Regions from separate parts of the Homo sapiens genome. Here region 2 is linked to region 1. The links come from fine-mapping of genetic effects on gene expression. Tissue or cell type: thyroid. Region 1 holds a variant in brackets; the other region holds the start of a gene. All regions are shown on one strand. Distances are between the middles of the regions.

Region 1 (10,307 bases):
GTGTGAGAGGGTATCTCATTGTGATTTTGATATGCATTTCTATAATGAGTAGTGATGTTTAGGATTTTTAAAATATGCTTGTTGCTTGCATGTATGTCTTCTTTTGAGAAGTGTCCATGTCCTTTGCCCATTTTTTAATGGGGTTGTTTTTTGCTTGTTGATTTAAGTTCTTTGTTGATGCTAGGTATTAGACCTTTGTCAGAAGGGTAGATTTGCAGATATTTTCTCCCATTCTATAAGTTGTCTGTTTGCTCTGTTGATAGTTTCTTTTTCTATGCAGAAGCTCTTTAATTAGGTCCCACTTGTCAATTTTTGTTTTTGTAGAAATTGCTTTCAGAGGCATCATACAATGTTTGCCAACACTATGTTCAGAATGGTATTTTCTAGGTTCTCTTCCAGATTTTTTATAGTTTTAGGTTTTGCCTTTAAGGCTTTGATCCATCTTGAGTTAATTATTGTATATGGTAAAAGGAAGTGGCCCAGTTTCAATCTTCTGCATATGGGTAGCCAGCTATTCCAGCACCGTTTATTGAATAGCAAATCCATTCTCCAGTTGCTTGTTATTGTCAACTTTGTCAAAGATCAGTTGGTTGTAGGTGTGCCGCTTTATTTGGGGGTTCTCTATCCCGTTCCATTGGTCTATGTGTCTGGGTTTTGTTGTTGTTGTTGTTGTTGTTTTATTCTGTTTAGTTTTGTTTTTTTACCAGTACCATGTTGTTTTGGTTACTGTAGTTTTATAGTATAGTTTGAAGTTGAGTAATGTGATGCCTCCACCTTTGCTCTTTTTGCTTTGGACTTTTGTGGCTATTCAGGCTCTTTTTTGTTTTAATATATATTTTAGAATAGTTCTAATTATATGGAAAATCATGTTGGTAGTTTGATAGGAATAGCATTGAATCTGTAAATTGCTTTGATTAGTATGGCCATTTTACAATATTGATTCTTCATAACTATGAGCTTGGAATGTTTTTCCATTGACTTGTTTCATCTCTAATATCTTTCAGAATTTTGTAATTCTCATTGTAGAGATCTTTCACCACCTGGTTAGCTGTATTCCTAGGAATTTTATTCATTTTGTGACTATTGTGAATGGGGTTGTGGTCTGGATTGGGTTCTCAGCTTGGATGTTATTGGTGAATAGAAATGCTATTAATTTTTGTACACTGAGTTTATATCCTGAGACTTTACTGAAGTTTATCAGTTTTAGGAGCCTTTGGGCAGAAACTGCGGGGTTTTCTAGGTATAGAATCATATAGTCTAAAGACAGGTAGTTTGACTTCTTCTCTTTCTATCTGAATGCTTTCTATTTGTTTCTCTTGCCTGACTGCTCTGGCAAGGACTTCCAGTACTATGTTGAATAGAAGTAGTGTGAGAGGGCATTCTTGTTTTGTTCTGGTTCTCAAGGGAAATGCCTCCAGCTTTTACCCATTCAATATGATGTTGGCTGTGGTTTTGTCATAGATGGCTCTTATTTTGAGATAAGTTCCTCTGATGACTAGTTTGTGAGGGTTTTTAACATGAAAGGATGTTGAATTCTATCGAAAGCCTTTTCTGCATCTATTAAGATGATCATGTAGTTTTTATTTTTAGTTATGATTATGTGATGAATCACATTTATTTATGTTTGTTAAACCAAACTTGCATCCAGGAATCAATATTGCCTGCCTGACCGTGGTGGATTAGCATCTTAATGTGCTGCTGGATTTGATTTGTTAGTATTTTGCTGAGGATTTTTGTGTCTATGTTTATCAGGATACTTAGCACAAGTTTTCTTTTTTCTTTGTATCTCTGCCAGGTTTTGGTATCAGAATGATGCTGACCTCATAGAATGAGTTAGGGAGAAGTCCCTCCTCCTTGATTTTTTGGAATAGTTTTGTTGGTTTTGTACCAGCTCTTTCTTTTATGTCTGGTAGAATTTGGCTGTGAATCCGTATGTCCCAGGGCTTTTTCTTGTTGGTAGCTTATTACAGAATCAATTTTAGAACTCATTATTGGTCTGTTCAGGATTTCAGTTTCTTCCTGGTTCAATCTTGGGAGATGGTATGCTTCCTGGAATTTATTCTTTTTTTTTCTAGGTTTTTTAGTTTGTGTGCATAGTGGTGTTAGTAATAGTCTCTGGGAGCTTTTTGTATTTCTGTGGAATCAACAGTAATATCCCCTTTGTCATTTCTGATTGTGTTTATTTGGATCTTCTCTCTGTTTAAACTTAATCTAGCTAGTGGTCTATCAGTATTATTTCTTCTTTCAAAAAAACCAACTTATGGTTTTGTTGATGTTTTGAATGGATTTTTGTGTCTGAATTTTGTTCAGTTCAGTTCTGATTTAGGCAATTTGTTTTCTTCTACCTTTGGGTTAGGTTTGCTCTTGGTTTTCTAGTTTCTTTAGGTGTGGTGTTAGCTTATTAATTTGAAATCTTTCTAACTTCTTGATGTAATCATTTAGTGCTAGAAACTTTCCTCTTAACACTGCTTTACCTGTGACCCAAAGATTGTGGCATGTTGTATATTTGTTTTCATTAGTTTCAAATAATGTTTGGATTTCTACCTTCATTCTTTACCCAAAAGTAATTCAAGAGGAAGCTGTTTAATTTCCATGATATTGTATGATTTTGAGCAATGTTCTTGGTGTTGATCTCTGTTTTTATTGTGCTGTGGTCCAAGAGTGTGCTTGGTATGATTTGGGTTTATTTCAATTTGTTGAGAATGGCTGTATGGCCAAGGATGTTATCAATCTTGGAATATGTGCCGTGTGGAGATGAGACTATATATTCTGTTGTTGTTGGGGAGAGTATTCTGTAGATATCTATTAGGTCTATTTGGTCAAGTGTGAAGTTTAGGTCCCAAATATCTTTGTTAGTTTTCTACCTCAATTATCTGTGTAACACTGTCAGTGAGATGTTAAAATCTCCCACTATTACTGTGTGGTTATCAAAGTCTTTTCATAGGCCTCTGAGAAATTCTTTTATGAATCTGGGTACTCTAGCATTGGGTGCCTATATATTTAGTTTTGTTAAGCCTTCTTGTTGAATTGAACCTTTTATCATTATGTAATGCCTTTTTTGTCCTTTTTGATCATTGTTGGTTTAAAGTCTTTTTTTCTGAAATAAGAATAGCAGCTCTTCCTCTTGTTTGTTTTCCATTTGCTTGATAGATCTTTCTCCATACATTTACTTTGAGCCTATGGGTGTCTTCACATGTGAGATGAGTCTCTTGAAGACAGCGTACAGTTGAGTCTTGCTTGTTTCTTCAGCTTTCCACTCTTTGCCTTTTAACTGGGGGTGTTTAGCCTGTTTATATTGAAGGTTAATATTGGTATGTGAAGATTCAATTATGTCATGTTCTTAGCTGATCGTTATGTATACTCGGTTATATAGTTGTTTTTTAGTGTCAGTGGACTATGTACTTATGTGTGTTTTTGTGGTGGCAGATAAGGGTCTTTCATGTCCATGTCTACCAGTCCCTTTAGGACCTCTTCGAAGGCAGGTCTGGTGCTAATGAATTATCTTAGCATTTGTTTGTCTGAAAAGGATTTATTTTTCTCCTTTACTTATGAAGCATAGTTTGGCTGCATGTAAAATTCTTGGTTGGAATTTCTTTTCTTTACGGATGCTGAATATAGTTTCTTAATCTCTTCTGGCTTGTAAGATGTCTGCTGAAAGGTCCACTGTTAGCCTGATGGGGTTCCCTTGGTACATGACCTGCCTCCTCTCTAGCTGCATTTAGCATTTTTTTTTCATGCTGACTTTGGAGAACCTGATGACTATGTGTCCTGGGGATTGTCGTCTTGTATATTATCTCTCAGGGGTTCTCTGAATTTCCTGAATTTTCATATCAACCTCTCTGGCAATGTTGAGGAAATTTTCATGGACAGCATTCTCAAATATATTTTCCGAGTTGCTTGCTGTCACTCCACCTCTTTCAGCAATGTTAGCGAGTCATAGGTTTGCTCTCTTTACATTCTCACATATTTCTCAGAGGTTTTCTTCATTTTTAAGTGCTTTTCTTCCTTTATTTTTGTGTGCCTGTATTGAATTGAAGGAGTGGTCTTTGAGCTCAGAGATTCTTTCCTCAGCTTGGTCTATTCTGTTATTAATGCTTCTAATTGCATTCCGAAATTCCTGTGGTGAATTTTTTATTTCCAGTTCTGTTTGGTTCTGTCTGAAAATTGTTGTCGTTCAACTGTTGGACCATTTTACTGTTTTCCTTGGATTAGGTTTCAACCTCATTCTGAATCTTGAGCTTCTGTGCCATCCAGATTCTGAATTCCATGTCTGTTGTTTCAGCCATTTCAATCTGGTGAAGAAACATTGCCGGGGAGCTAGAGCAGTCATTTGGTTGTAAGAAGACACACTGGCTTTTAGAGTTACCAGAGTTGTTGTGCTGGTTCTTTCTCATCTGTGTGGGCTGATGTTACTTTAATCTTTGACATCGCTATCTTTTGGATGGGGCTTTTTGATTTTATATTCTTTGATGCCCTTGCGAGTTTGACTGTGGTATAAGCTGGGCTCAGTCAGTTCACTTTATTTCTGGAAGATTTCAAGGGATAAAGGCTCAGCTCAGCACCCAGGGGCTGCATGCTCTAACCCTGGGGGGCTAGGACCAGTCCCATGGCTTTGTTCTCTGGCCCCTCAAGTTTAAGTACCTGCTGTGCTGGAGGGGCCAAGGTGTTCTCAGTCCACTGGTAACGACACTCCAGTGGGGGCTGCTAGCCAAAGTGCTCTTGCAGAGTGATGGTAAGTACGTAAGTGCAC[A/G]TGCATGTATGTGCTGGCAAGATAGCAGGGGGAGTCTACAGGTAGGTGCATGCTGGCGGGGGAAGGCTGCAGGTGGGTGTACACGGTGGGGGGAGGCTGCTGGTGGGTGCATGCTGGCAGGGGAAAGCTGTGGGTGGGTGTGCACTGGTGGGGTTTATCTGCAGAAGTGCTCTGATGGTCAGACGGGCTCTGCTGGTGAGAGGGCTGGGGCTGTGGCCACTGATGAGAGCCTTGGCAGCTGTTGCTGTGCTGCAAGTGGGTGCATCCAGGCGGGGAGCCCAGGAGAGGCCAGCAGTCAGAGGGGCGTTCAGATCAGACTGGCTGCATCCCAGGAGCCGGCCAGCCGTGCTCTCTCCTGGTCCCACAGCTAACAAAGCCTAAAGCCACCTAGAGGAGTGTGGCAAGCCTTGGGGGACGGGTGCCCATGGCTGAGCTCCACTGCAGCCGTTCCCACACCAAATCTTCTGGAGTTCTGTCTGCCAACTCCTTGGGCACTTCTCCCTGCCAGCTCAGAGGTCTGTGGGGGTCATTGAGTCTCCCATAGGTGGGATCGGGGAGATCCATGTGAAGAGTGGGCCACTCCATGCCTGTTTCCCTTAGTCCTCCCCTAGGAGTCACTCAAGGCCAATAACAAGTCCTGGTGCCCAGCAACCCTGTCCAGGGTTCCCACCTTCCTCCCCTTTCAGCCAGGGATCTGTGTCCTCACTGTCCACTTTGAAAGCCTTTTTTCCAAGGATCTGTTCACAGTGTGCAGGTCTATGCCATGGGCTGGTCTCTGTGAGAAGCGCTTCCCGTGTGCATGGAGCCAGCCATCTTGGCTCTTCTCCGCGGTGCTGCATTTTTTAAAGAGTGACTACTGTTCAGGGTGGGGAGAAGAAGTACTTTGAAACAATTAGTGGGTGGATGACATTTCTCTTTCTTCTACAAGATGACTAAAAGTTTAAAATATTAAAGAAAAATATCATTGTATAAGAAGGGCTGCTTGAAAGAATGGTTTGACCAGGGTTGTTGATCTTCACTTTCTCTTTTTTAAAAATATGACATTAAGAATTGTAAGTGCCTTAAACACTAGAGACATACGCACTGATTTGTGTTCCCACAGCAAGATTTCTGAAAGGGAAGAGCAAGACTTGTCTGCCACTGTGGGCCCCTGCAGCCATTATGGAGGGTTCTGTGATGACTGTTTGGTTTTCCCTAAGGGAAGTGGGATAATCAACCTGTCGGAATCTCAAGGATAAAAACAATTGAATAGTAGGCAGAGATTTATTAAGCACCCATATGCTCTATATGTGTATATTTATTGAGCATCTATATGTTCTGTTCTCTAGCAAACAATGTGTGAGATGGAGAAAAACAGAAGACATACTCCTTGTTGTTAAAAACAATAAGGATATTTTCTCAACCTTAATTATTTTACCTTATTAATTTTGACTTCTCATTGTTTCCCCTTGATGTGGATTAATATGAAGGCAGATTCAAGTTAAGCAATGAATCAAAACGATATTCTTTGAGCGTACGATATGTTTGTGGCATCGTGGCAGACAGAATTTAAACCACATGGATGATTAAGATAGGTTTTCTCCTCTCAAAGGAGCCATTGTCTAAGAGGAATTGCAAGAAAATGACAGATAATGAAAATATCTCTTATTTTAGCATTTACCTGGCATTCGTGGCACATTTAATGTGGGTCAGGAAGAGGGAATATCAGGATGAGTAAGGCACAGTTCTCTCATATAAGAGACATAATTGACATGCGTATTTGTAACTACCGTCAAGTAGGAAAAATTTTCACTGTCATATCCCAAGCACCAAGAACAGAGCCTGCTTGGCAGATAGAAAGCATCTTAAATAATTATTGAATTAATACATATTTATGTACAAGTTCATTTTTAAAGGTACTTTCACATTCAGGTGTTTATTTCATCTCAAAACTATTGTGTGAAAGAGTAGACCAGAAATTAATAAAATATAGAATACAAAAAATGATAGAAAAAAATCAATGAAACTGTAACTTTATTATTTGAAAAACTCAACAAAATTGTTAAGCCTTTTATTAACTCATAAGGAGAAAAAAAGAGATGACTGAAATTACTAAAATCCAGAATGAAAAGAGAGATTACTACTAACCTTACAAGAATAAAATGAATTATAGTGTCTATAATAGTTGAAGAACTGTTAAAATTCAACAACACAAAAGCCTAATTTTAAAATGAGCAAGGGGACTGGATGGACATTCTCCAAGGAAGATATACAAATGGTCAACAAGCACGTGATAAGATGCTTAAAACTATGAGTCCCTGGGGAGATGCGAGTCAAAACCGCAGTGAACTGCTCCCCCACATCTGCTAGGATGGCTGTTGGTGACAAAATTAATCGGAAGCAAAGTGACAAGAGTTAGCAAGGATATGGACAAACTGAAATCCTCATATGTTGCTGTTGGAAATGTAAAGTTATTTAGCCATTGTGGAAAAGAGTTTAAGTTTTCACTATCCACAAAAACTTAAAATGGAAAAGAATGCCATCCTGCCTGTGTGCCCAAAAGAGCTGGAAATAGGTGCCCAAACCAGTGCGGGAGCGTCCATGCTCACAGCAGTGCTTGCATGATAGCCGAAGGGGAACCACCTGGATGTCCACAGGGGTGGATGGATAAGCACATGCCATATGTACAGACAACGGAACATTTCTCAGTTATGAACACGAGTGAGGGATTGGTAGATGTTACAGCGGAGGAAGGACCTCAGAAACCTTATGCTCAGTGAAAGAAGCCAGACAAAAAATGTCACATATTCTGTGATTTCACATCAATGAAATATCCATAACTGGTAAATCCACAGATACAGAACACCGAGGTAATTGCCAGCGGCAGAACAGAGAGGAGAATGGGGAACGGTCACTTACTAGGGTGGGGTTTCCTTTTGGACTGATGAAAAACGTCTTGAAACTGGACAGAGCTGGTTGAACAACACGTGAATGTATTAAATGCCACTACATGGATCCCGTCAAAATGGTTAATTTTATGTTTTTAATTATACCTCAGCTTTAAAAATTAAAATCATATGCAAGTATCATGAACACTTTTAAGCCAATAAATTTGGTATCTTAGGTGAAATGAACAAATTTCTACTAGGTACATACTACCAAAAATAAGAAGAAATACTGGGGAGCTCTTGGTCCAAGGACAGAACATCTCAGTTAGACTGAAGGACTAAGTTCAAGACATCTATTGTGTATTGTGGTGAATGCAGTTTATAATATATTGTATAAATCAAAATTGCTAAGGAGTAAATTTTCAGTTCACACCACAAAAAAGTTTAAGCAGGTTGATTTAGCCATTCCGTAATGTATGCATATATCAAAACATCATGCTGTATGCTGTAAATATATATATAATTTTTCCTTTTCATTTTTAATATTTTAGAAAGATATTTTTACAAGGTGGTGATTTCATTTCTCATAGGTATATATGCATATATATGGTATATATGGAAGAGGAATTGCTGAGTCATATATCTAATAAGGGGGTAATATCCAAAATTTATAAAGAACTTATATAATTAAATAGCAGAAAAATAAATAGCTCAGTTTAAACCATGGGCATTCTGTTATAAAGATGCATGCGCACGTATGTTCAGTGAAGCACTGTTCACAAGAGCAAAGACACAGAATCAACGCAAATGTCCATCAATGATAGACTGGATAAAAAAAATGCGGTGCACCATGGAATACTATGCAGCCATGAAAAGGAATGGGACCATGTCCTTTGCAGGCGCATAGATGAAGCTGGAAGCCATTATCCTCAGCAAACTAACACAGGAAAAGAAAACAAAACACTACATGTTCTCACTTATAAGTGGGAGCTGAACAATGAGAAGGTATGGACACAGGAGGGAGGAGAACAACACACACAGGGGCCTGTCAGGGGGCAAGGGGGAGGGAGAGCATCAGGATAAATAGCTAATGCATGTGGGGCTTAATACCAAGGTTGATGGGTGCAGCAAACCACCATGGCACACATTTCCCTATGTAACAAACCTGAATGTCGTGTACATGTATCCTGGAACTGAAAAAATAAATGAAATATGGGCAAAGGACCTGAGTAGATATTCTCAGAAGATGATATAAAAATGACCAACATGGTTTTGATTTGCATTTCCCTGAGGATTAGTGATGTTGAGCGCTTTTCACACAACTGTTGAACGTTTGTGTAATCCTCAGTAAACATCAGTAATCCTCAGGGAAATGCAAATCAAAATCACTGAGATACCACCTCATGCCCACCAAATAGCATAGCTATGAAAAGAGAGAGGAGATAACAAATGTTAGTGCAGAGAAAAGGGAACCCCCACACTTCAGCAGGAAAGTAGATTTGTGCAACAATTATGGAAAACAGTATCGACGTTCCTAAGGAAAGTAAAAATAGAATTACCCTATGACCCTGCAACCTGTCTTCTGATTGTACCCAAAGGGAACAAAATCACCACCTCGGAAATATATCTGCACTCCCTGTTCACCTGTTCATTGCAGCGTATTTCACAATAGCCGAGATACAGAAATGACCTGAGTGTCCTTCAACAAATGAATGGGTAAGGAAACTGTGAGATATATATATATATATATATAGTATAGATATATATTATCCATTCATTTTTAAGAGTGTTATATATATATTTGTTTTATACACACACACAGAATGGGATATTATTCAGCCTTATAAAAATAAGATCCTTATGTAATGCCTTTCTTTTTCTCCTTTTCGATCATTGTTGGTTTAAAGTCTGTTTTTATTTTTTTTTTCTGAAATAAGAATAGCAACTCTTCCACTTGTTTGTTTTCCATTTGATTGATAGATCTTTCTCCGTACATTTACTTTGAGCCTGTGGCTGTCTTCACATGTGAGATGAATCTCTTGCAGGCAGCCTACAGTTGAGATTTGCTTCTTTTCTTTTCTTTTTTTTTTTTGATGGAGTTCTGCTCTGTCGCCCAGACTGGAGTGCAGTGGCACAATCCTGGCTCACTGCAAACTCCACCTCCCAGGTTCAAGCAATTCTCAAGCATTGCCATCTGTGACAATGCGGATGGACCTGGAGGCCGTTATGCTAAATGAAATAAGGCAGACACAGGAAGAAAAATATTACATGATGTCACTTATATGTGGAATTATATAAAGAGATAAAACTAGTTATCAGGGATGGGGTAGAGAGAGGAAAAGGAGAAATGTAGGTGAGAGGGTACAAAGGAGCAGATAAGATGAACAAGTCTGGAGATCTATCATACAACAGGAGAATTATAGCTAATAAAATTGAACTGTATTTGGAATTATTTATTGCTAAATTAGTACGTCTTAGCTGCTCTTGCTATACACACACAAAATGGGTAACTATGTGAGATGATGGATATGTTATTTTGCTTTACTATAGTAACCGTTTTACTATTTATATGCATGTTATGACATGTTATATACCTTAAATATACACAATAACACTTGGACACAGGAAGGGGAACATCACACACTGGGGCCTGTTGTGGGGTGGGGGAATGGGGGAGGGATAGCACTAGG
Region 2 (9,153 bases), 480 kb before region 1:
TCCAACACACAGTTCTCAGTAAGCATGTAACACACTAAGGCCTCCCAGAAGTGTCATCCAATTGCTGGGCCAAACTTGGGGGTCATTGGTGACTCTCCTCTTCCTCTCTTCCTGAATAACCCATCCAGAAAAATCACATCAAGCGCATTCTACTTGCAACGTGTCTTACTTCCACTGCTGAGTTTGTGTTTTCATCATTTGTCACTAGGATTTCTCCAGCCTTTTTTAAGTTGATCTCTGAAATCCCAGGATTTCTCCGAGCATTTTTAAAATGATCTCAATTCCACTCTTGTTCCTCACTCCCATCCTACCGACATTTCTTCTTATAGCAGCCAAAATGGTCATTTTAAAACCTCACTGCCATTCAAAAATCACTGAAGGTGGACCATCCAGCAACAGGATAGGGAAGAAAAACCACACAATCACATCATTAGATGCAGACAAAGCATTTGACAAAATCCAACACCCATTCATGATTTAAAACCGAAACACCCTCAGCCAACTATGATTAGAGGGTAACTTCTTCAGTTTGATAAGGGACACCTACAAAAACCCTAGAGCTAACAGCATACTAAATGGTGAGAAACTAGAAGCCTTTCCCACTAAGATCAGGAAGAAGGCAAGGCCCCCCCCTCTTGCCACTGCATCTCACTGTTACACTGCAATTCCTGGCCAATGCAATGAGACAAGAAAAGGAAATACAAGGTATACAGATTGGGAAGGGAGAAATAGAAGTTTTCTCTGCAAATGACAGGATTGTCTATGAAGAAAATCTCTGCCTTGCTCAAAATCCTACATCATAATTCATTGTATAGAGGATACAAATCAAAGCCCTTAAAATGTCCTGAAAGACCCCTGAGTTTTTCTCCCGTCACAATCATGTGGTCCTTTTCTCCCTCAGTTGCAGTTATTCTGACTGTTCAGTTAAACGAAAATGTGGCCAGGCATGGTGGCTCATGCCTGTCATCTTAGCACTTTGGGAGGCGGAGGCAGGAGGATCGCTTGAGCATGGGAGTTGGAGATTAGTCTGGGCAACATAACAAGCCCCTGTGTCTACTAAAAATACAAAAAGTTAGCCAGGCATGGTGGCACATACCTGTAGTCTCAGCTACTCAGAAAGCTGAGGTGGGAGAATCACCTGAGTCAGGGAAGTTGAGGCTGCAGTGAGCCGTGACAGCACCACTGTACTCAAGCCTGGACAACAGGAGTGAGACCCTGTCTTAGAAAAGAAAAAAGGCCAGGTACAGTGGCTCACGCCTGTACTCCCAGCACTTTGCGAGGCCGAGGCGGGTGGATCACGAGGTCAGGAGATCGAGACCATCCTGGCCAACATGGTGAAACCCCGCCTCTACTAAAAATACAAATACAAATAATAATAATAATAATGATAATAATAATAATAATAATAATAATAATAATAATAGCAGGGCATGGTGGTGTGCACCTGTAATCCAGCTACTCGGGAGGTTGAGGCAGGAGAATCGCTTGAACCAGGGAGTCAGAGGTTTCAGTGACCTGAGATAGTGCCACTGCACTCCAGCCTAGTGACAGAGTGAGACTCCGTCAAAAAAAAAAAAAAAAAGGCATCAAGTCCTTCTATCTCCCAAGGTCTTCAGGCCTGCTCTTATCTCCCTAAATCCTGTTCCCAGGGCCATGGCAGAGGCCACCTCTGATGCCACCCTCAATGTGCTCTCAGGTCCCCGTGCACTCCCCTGCTGGTTGGCCTCTGGACTTTCTTTGAAGCTTTGGGAGGTGCTCAACTTGGGGAGTGGGGTGTGTGGGTGAGGAGCAGCCCTCAGTCACTGGGACCTAGAAGCTGAAAAGCTGTCCAGCCTTCCTAAGCTGACGTGCACTCCAAGCTGCTCCTGTTAGAGCACCCCAGCAGGACGGGGCCCCGGTGGCCACAGGAGCAGCCCAGCGTCACCGCAGCCTCTGGGACGTCCTCTCCTGCCCTGCCTCTCTCTCCCTACTTCCTCTCTCTAGTTTCCTGGGATCGATCTCCCAAATGAACTACCTGCACCCAAATCCACACCTCAAAACCTGCTTGTGGGAGAACCCAGGGGGAGATTTAATAACGACGTCCTCAAAAAGTTCTTTTCTGATGTCACAAACTGTATTTGTTGCCCTTTTCACATTCACCAATAACACTCCATATGTTTCCTTCAGAGAATTATAACTTGTAATTGTCTGTTCCTTGGGTAACTTCTGGGCGGATCCCTCTCTAGACTGAAGGCTTCATGGGGCGGCAACCGTGGTTTTCTGTGCTGCTCACACGCTGAGAACACAGGAGAGGCCGTCAGTACATTTGTGTGATTTTCTTGTTGCGGTTGCATGAAATAATATATATATATATTTTTAAAAAACGTGAAGGGATGGGGACGAAATGCAGGGGAGGAAAGCAAAGGGAAAGTAAATTGTGAAATGAAAATAAATTGGCCTGGAATCTCTCCCTAGTTGAGGTTTGGGCGCTGAATGCACCTTTTTTTTTTTTTTTTTTGACAGTGGAGACCACTGATAGATTCGGGAAACATTTAGAAGAAATGGACAGCGGCCGGACTTCTTTCTCCCATTCACCTTTCTACCCCCTCGTCGTTTAGCACTCTGCCTTGAAAATAAACTGCAACTGATGAATATTTTGGTGATCAATTATACGGGGAATTCTTACAGAGCCTGTTTTTTGTTTAAAGATCTTGGAATTTCTGGAAAAGATTGGTTTGTCCATTCCAAATATTTTGGATGACCTGATTTCATTCTAACTCCCATCCGTCTTTCTATGCGGTTTGTTTTCGCATCTTTTACCTCATTTAAATGCCGTAGCCATGCAGGTGGAAAGCAGAAATCCATTTCTGCGTTTATGTTAAACTGGGGCTGAGAGACTTGCCCAGGGTCGGTGACCGCCCAGGGATCCCCATACCAGCGCGTCTAGCTCCCGCGTTCCGATCCCGGAAGGGAAAACCCATGATCCTGGCGAGGGTCCGTCCACACGTGGCCAGGGTGGCTGATCTTCCCGGCTGCTGTGGTTGTCAACACCACTTCTCCGGATCGATTTTCCCTTTTCCTCGGCTCTGTCGTCCATACGCCACTCACAGCAAACCCAGGCGGCGGGCCCCCTCCGAGGGCGCTCCTTGCGTCCGGACCCAGGTTCTCGGGGCGCCCCCCGGTGGGTCCCCGCGAAGCCGCCGCCGCACACCTTCCTCAGCGTAGCCCGCCAGTGGAAACCGGGGGAGGTTCTGCCTCCAGCACCCAAGCGGCGGCCGCACCTCGCAGTGAGACCCTCGCAAGCGCCCGCGCCTCCCTCGCCCCGCGTCCCCTCTGCCCCGCGAGCCCCCCTGGGCGCCGAGCCGACTCGAACCCGAGCGCGAGTCCCGCGCACAAACGCGCCGGCGCGTCTCTAACAGCGGTCCAGAAAGGCTGACCCTGCCCGGGGGCGACGGGTGTGACCGGGTCCCCCGCTAACTTTCGGGCGCGGTGAGCGTCGCCTGCGCGCGCCGCGGTGGAGGCCGCTGCTTTCCCGCCGGGAGCCCGGCACAGTCCCCGGGTGACCCGCGCGCCCCGCGCAACAGTTGGAGCCGGGCTGCCCGCGCGCTCCCCAAGCCGGGCCCTTCCCCAGATGCAGCCGCGCGCCGGCCGCCCCCCAGTGCGCCGGTGCCTCCCTGGGCGCCGAGTGCGCAGGCGCCGGCCGTGAAGACCGACCGTGCGCCGGGCTCGAGCGCGGTCTGAGCGCGCGGCGCCTGCGGCGGCGAACGGACGGACGGACCGCGGACGGACGTACTGACCCCAACCCGCGAGCCCCGGGAGCCGTCGGTCTGAGGAGGGGCCGCTTCGCCATGTCGCCCCGCACCTGCTGAGCCCGGAGCGTCCGAGGATGTCCGCGCTGAGGAAGGTGCGAGCCGCCGGGGGCTGCCGGGAGCCGGGCGCGGGGCTCCGAGAGCCGTCGAGGCGGGGAGGGCGCGGTGTGTCGGACCCGCGGGGACGCCCCGAGGGCGTCAGGGTTGGGGGCGGGGGCGAGCGGGGGTCGTGCCGCCCGCCGGGGCCGGAGCGCTGGGGACCCCAGGGACAGCCTGTGCTCGGGGGTCGCGCGTTGCGCTCCTCGCCGGGCTCCGCGCATCCCTGGCCGCGCTCGGGGGTGCCGGGACCCTGGGCTCCGGGGGTGCGGGAGCGCACGGGGCCGCGGAGGTGTGAAATTCTCCGCTCTGCCTGCCCGGGGTGGAGGGGGCAAAGCCTGGGGGGTGCCGGCGCGCCAGGGGCTACGCGCCTAGCTCCGGTGGGGCAGCTGCGAGCGAGTGGGGGCGGCGGGCAGCAGACTGCATCCCCCTCCCCCCAAGCCCGGGTGGAAACGCCGACGGGGACTGGGAATGAATGAAGGGTGCCGGGCTGGGCTGCGCGCACGGGGGCTCGCGGGGGCGGGGGCGACCAGGATGGGGCCCTTGTGCCGGGCAGCAGCGGCTGCCGAGACCAGGCGGAGTGGAGGGTGCGCGCAGCGAGGGGGTGGCCGCCGCCCGGCTCTCCAAGTGCGAGCGAGGAGCTCGGGGTCTTTTTTAGGGGTGGTTGCTAAGCGAGGCGCTACCCAGCGCAGGGTTTTGTAACTAAGCCTCCCCCGGCAGCGGCTGTTGCTGTCTCCGGCTCCTTCGCTAACGATTGCAGGAGAAATAATGAGGATGTAATTATTACAGCCCTGCGCGGAGGGCTGGGGGGCGGCGGACGCGGGCTCCTCTGCCTGCGCGCCCAGGTGGGGCTGGGCTGGGCTGGGCTGGGCTGGGCTGGACTGGACGCCTCTCCCCGCCCGGCCCTCCCTCAGCGCGCGGCGTGTGCGGTGCCCGAGGCTTCGGAGCAGGCTGGACCTGGGAACCCGGGGAGGGGCCTGGAGGAGAGATAGCTGGGCGAGGTGGGCGCCGGCGAGAAGGCGGAGCCCCCGGACAGCGTAGGTTCGCAGGTGGAGAGCGGACGCGGGGGCGAGGGTGCGCGGCGGGTCTGCGATGCGCGTCGGAAACTCGCGGCCCCCGGTCCCGGCCCTGCGCGCTTGGAGCCCGGGTCCTTCCAGCCCCTGCGCGACGCCGCCGCCGCCGCCGCCGGTGAATGGCGATCCCGGCCACGGCCTGGAATTGGAAATTCGTGACTTGTCGGCGGCCCCGGTCTTCTATCGATTAAAGATAAAGCGATCAGCAGTGAATTTATCCTTCGTGTGGATGAACTCGGCCAGCCCGGGCTGTGGGGGGTTTGGGAACTGTAAATATTCTCCAAAGCGCCGCCGCTTCTCCCGTCTTCCCGGACTCGAGGCTGGAGGCAGCTCCGGCGACGCGAAGGGGGGTACCCCCCGGAGAGGTCGGGCCTGGGGCGCGGCGGACAGAGACCCGGTCCCAGAGCCTGGCGGAGCCCGACAATCCGCCCTGTCAGGAGGAATCTCATCAACAGCCCGTGAATTAATTGTCCTTGCAGTTGGGAAATAACCCGGTACCTCGGCGTAGCCCGAGGGAGTCCAGGAGGCTCTCCAAGGAGCCTTCCCCCGGGTCGCGAAGCTGCGCTAAACCCCGGCCCCAGCGCACCTTGGAAGGCGCATTTTGGCCTGAGGTGAACGCACCTTACACCATTTTCATTTTACTTCCTTTTCTCTGAGAAAGGTAATAGATAACCAAGGCCAAAAATGGCGAAATGATGAAAAAATGGTAATTCTTGGCAGGTCAAGTTGTTACTCTGGGTTTAAAAAAATGTCATTAATCAGGATTTTCCAGTAGCCAAATTGTCTTGTGCCGGCAGCTGGGTGACTCACAGATTTGGCTCCAATAGTAATTGTAGAGTGTGCGTACCATTTCCTTCTGGATGGTGTGACTTTTTCATTGCTTGGAAGAGAACACATTAGAATATTTTATCCCCTACATCTGGCAGCATGTGGAGCAGGCTGTAGGCAATACTCTGTCCAAGCACATCTGGGCGGGGAGGCCGTGGAGGGACCGAGGTGACACAGAGCCGGCCCTGTCCTCGGTTCTGTCTCGGGTCACCTGAGGCATCTTCACCGCGGCAGCTCGGGCGCGTGGGATCTGCTCTCAGTGATGACCTGGGACGCATCCTGCCTCTGTGCGCCATTCCTGCCCCTTCACTGTCACTCCTTGGTGATCGCCCGTGTTCTTGGGTAAGCAGTGGAGAGGCACAGAATGGCTTCCTCTGTTGATCTACCGCGTCAAATCTGTATATTATAATTTCAGGTTAAAGGGTAAGAGTTGTAAGCAAAATGAGTACTACGTCAAATAATTCAAAGGAACGAAGTAATTAAAAGTAAAGCTTTCTCAGCACGAAGATGTTTTCTCAGATAAGCATTCTAAGTCAACTTTTCATAGTATTCAATGTCTATTTGTTATTCTTCGAAAGAACTTTGCACTTATGATTGTCCAAAGTGGTACAGCTTGAGACAGAAATAAACATGTATTTATTTACCAACTTTTTGTATGCCTTTTGTTACTTGTGATTTAAATGGGTTAATTCGATTTTTAGTTTTGTAGAATTCAGATCACATGACATTATTTCTCCCCAGTGACATACATGCCCTTCTGTGGCAATCTATTGCTTCTCTTATTTGTGTCTACTTATTTCAGTTTTGAAATTGGTAGAAATTCCAAATTAAATATTAAAAGCAAAAATAGGCTTCGTGGAATTTAAATTACATTGGATTCTGTGTACCCAGAACCCAACTAATTCTGAAACTAAAGTGCTCTAATATCTTTTTAAGGGTGAGAGGATTTTGTTTTGTTTTATTTTGAAGATATCATCTTCCATAATGTTGAAATTGAAGAAATGCTATAATTTTTTTATTATATAACTGTATTTGAGGAAAAGCTTCATGACTCCTCAGTTATCCAAGGAGTTGAATGATGTATACTTTGATTATAGATTTTAAAATGAAGTTGATTAAATATTCTATTTATTGACCCTCAGGATGGATGCTCCATGGTCATTCATTGGATACAATAAAAATAACTATGATTCATCATTTTGGCCAGATGGGAGTCATATTTAGAGCATTGCCATCATGTTGGTTATAAAAGAATTACAGGCTGCCATACAGGAAGTTAGTAGGCACACTTTCTATGCAGTTAAAAATTATTCTTAATCAACCGTAGTTTTACCAACTAGTTTTCATCATACGAGGCTTTCTAGTGCCACTAACTTCTTCAATATGTTTTGTTGTTTCCTGGGTACTTGTGCGTACAAAAACTGAGCATAGTGATTTCACGTGTGCTCATGACAAAAGACTTTAATTTCTAGGGAAGTTAAGCAGATGGGCTTTGGCATTGACCAGGCATGGGGTCGTAGGGTGTGCAAACTCTAGTTTAAATCTTGCATCTACTGGTAGCCACCTTTCCCTTCCAAGGCTTAACAGCAGTAACAAATTAATCTCCTCAGCAAAGGCAGTAGGAGCTCATTTGTAAAGCTCTGTTTTTCTTTTTTCATGTCATTCTTCTGTGCACTGACTTCATCTGCCTATGAAAATCTTCTCCCAGTCCTCAGGTCATGGGCCTTGACATGCAGTCCCTTAACTTTAGCTCCAGGAGAGGGGCCTGGGTGTTCTGACATCCCGGTGATGGGTGTCCGCTGCAGGTGCACCTCTCCTGACTTGATGGCAGTGTCTTCATGTGGGATGTCAGTTGCCTTAGTTCTGGAAGTGTCCTGTCTGTATTTATTGGCGGGCCTTCAGGAGTTGAGCTTTCTAGACCCGTTACTGCAGACTCCAGTGTATTTGCAGTTCAGTGTACGCTTCCCTTTCCAGGCAGCAGCCAGCTCCCCTTAGGGAACACCTGCCACCTCATGGGGTTGGCTTGGCGGACCCTACTTCCCGTCAGAGGTGGCTCCTGACTGGCCGGAGCCCTAACTCCCTCTCAAGAGCAATTGGATGAGTGAAGAGCGGGAACTTTCAAGGAGAGGAAAGCTTTAGGAAAAACAGCGGGAAAGGTGTAAGGCCTGCAGTTGTGGCATCAGTGCACAGCCTTGCAGGGATGGCCTGTCTGGAAATGACACCTTCCTCATCTGTCTGTGGAGGAGAAGGGCGGCTGTTATGCAGAGAGCTTGGTCCTGAGGATGCTGTTGGAAGCTCTGAACTAAGTTATGCCTGAACCATCATTACCCCGTGACTTTCAGTTACATAAACCAGGAGATTGTTTCTTTGAACTGAGTTTTCTGTCCCTGACAAGCAAATGGGATGTATGGGCTTTTAGTTTCTTCAGACATTTCCACATTAAACCTCTTGTTGCAGGGAAAGGCTTATTCATCTTCGGGTACTGTTTCTTATATGGTACATCGTGTGTATCGGCAGGAAAAAAAGAGAAAAATTTAAATCAACCATTTTAAACAATGAATAAACATTTGGAAATAGCCCATCTGTAAACTTGTGTTAAAAATTTTTAAAGTAACCTGTGAATCTGACTGATCGTTGTCTTTAAAATGTTTCATACTCTGTACAAAAGAAGAAAAATGGGAATGATCTCAAGGGTCCATAGAGTATGTATTTTAAGTTAGGCGGTATTGAAAAACATCCTTTTGTGTGTAACGAATGTTTGTCCTGTGACTTTTGCACAGCATTGCAAGTGGCTTTTTAGAGACAGGGTCTCCCTCTGTCACCCAGGCGGGAGTGCACTGGCATGATCATAGCTAACTGCAGTCTTGACCTCCTGGGCACGAGTGATCCTCCCACCTCAGCCTGTCTAGTAGTTGGTGTATGTCACCGCACCCAACTAATTTTTACTTTTTTTTTTTTTGGTAGAGACGGAGGTCTTGCAGTGTTGCCCAGGCTGGCCTTAGATTCCTGTCCTTAAGGAATCCTCCTGCCCTGGCCTCCTCAAGTGCTGGGATTACAGGAGTGAGTCACTTTTCCCAGCTGCATTTGGCTCTTTATTTGACCTCACCGTATTTCAGTTTTCTCATCACTAAGAGTGGGGCCAATGCAATATTAACTTGATAGGGTTAAGGAGGATTAAATGAATTCATGACTGTAAAGTGATAAGAATGGTGCACGTAGGAAATGCTGGATTAGTCTTGACTATTTTTATCATGAAAAAATACAATTGAGGCCTACTTTGAGTCAGTCCACAATGGAAGTTATCAAGCAACTCTTTGATTTCTCTCAAAACTGTTTTATTTATTATTTCTGGTCTTGTTTTACTTTTT

Evidence for each region. PIP is the estimated chance that this variant, and not a neighbour inherited with it, causes the effect.
Region 2: it holds the start of DLGAP2, and the variant in region 1 is fine-mapped to the expression of DLGAP2 in thyroid (GTEx, PIP above 0.99).

What each region holds. Positions count from the first base shown.
Region 1 is chr8:1,217,805-1,228,111 of GRCh38, forward strand. The region is part of intron 2 of DLGAP2 (DLG associated protein 2); the gene reads left to right. Among named protein-coding and RNA genes, the nearest start is that of DLGAP2-AS1, 400 kb to the right of the region's middle. The variant A/G (reference allele first, on the strand shown) is at 4,751.
Region 2 is chr8:733,943-743,095 of GRCh38, forward strand. It overlaps DLGAP2 (DLG associated protein 2), which reads left to right and starts at 3,686. Exons shown (of 15, transcript NM_001346810.2): 1 at 3,686-3,883. The coding sequence starts at 3,866. LOC124902044 (a long non-coding RNA gene) reads right to left here and starts at 3,088. Exons shown (of 2, transcript XR_007061156.1): 1 at 2,915-3,088; 2 at 2,092-2,275. LOC401442 (a long non-coding RNA gene) reads left to right here and starts at 4,606. Exons shown (of 1, transcript NR_134292.1): 1 at 4,606-6,432.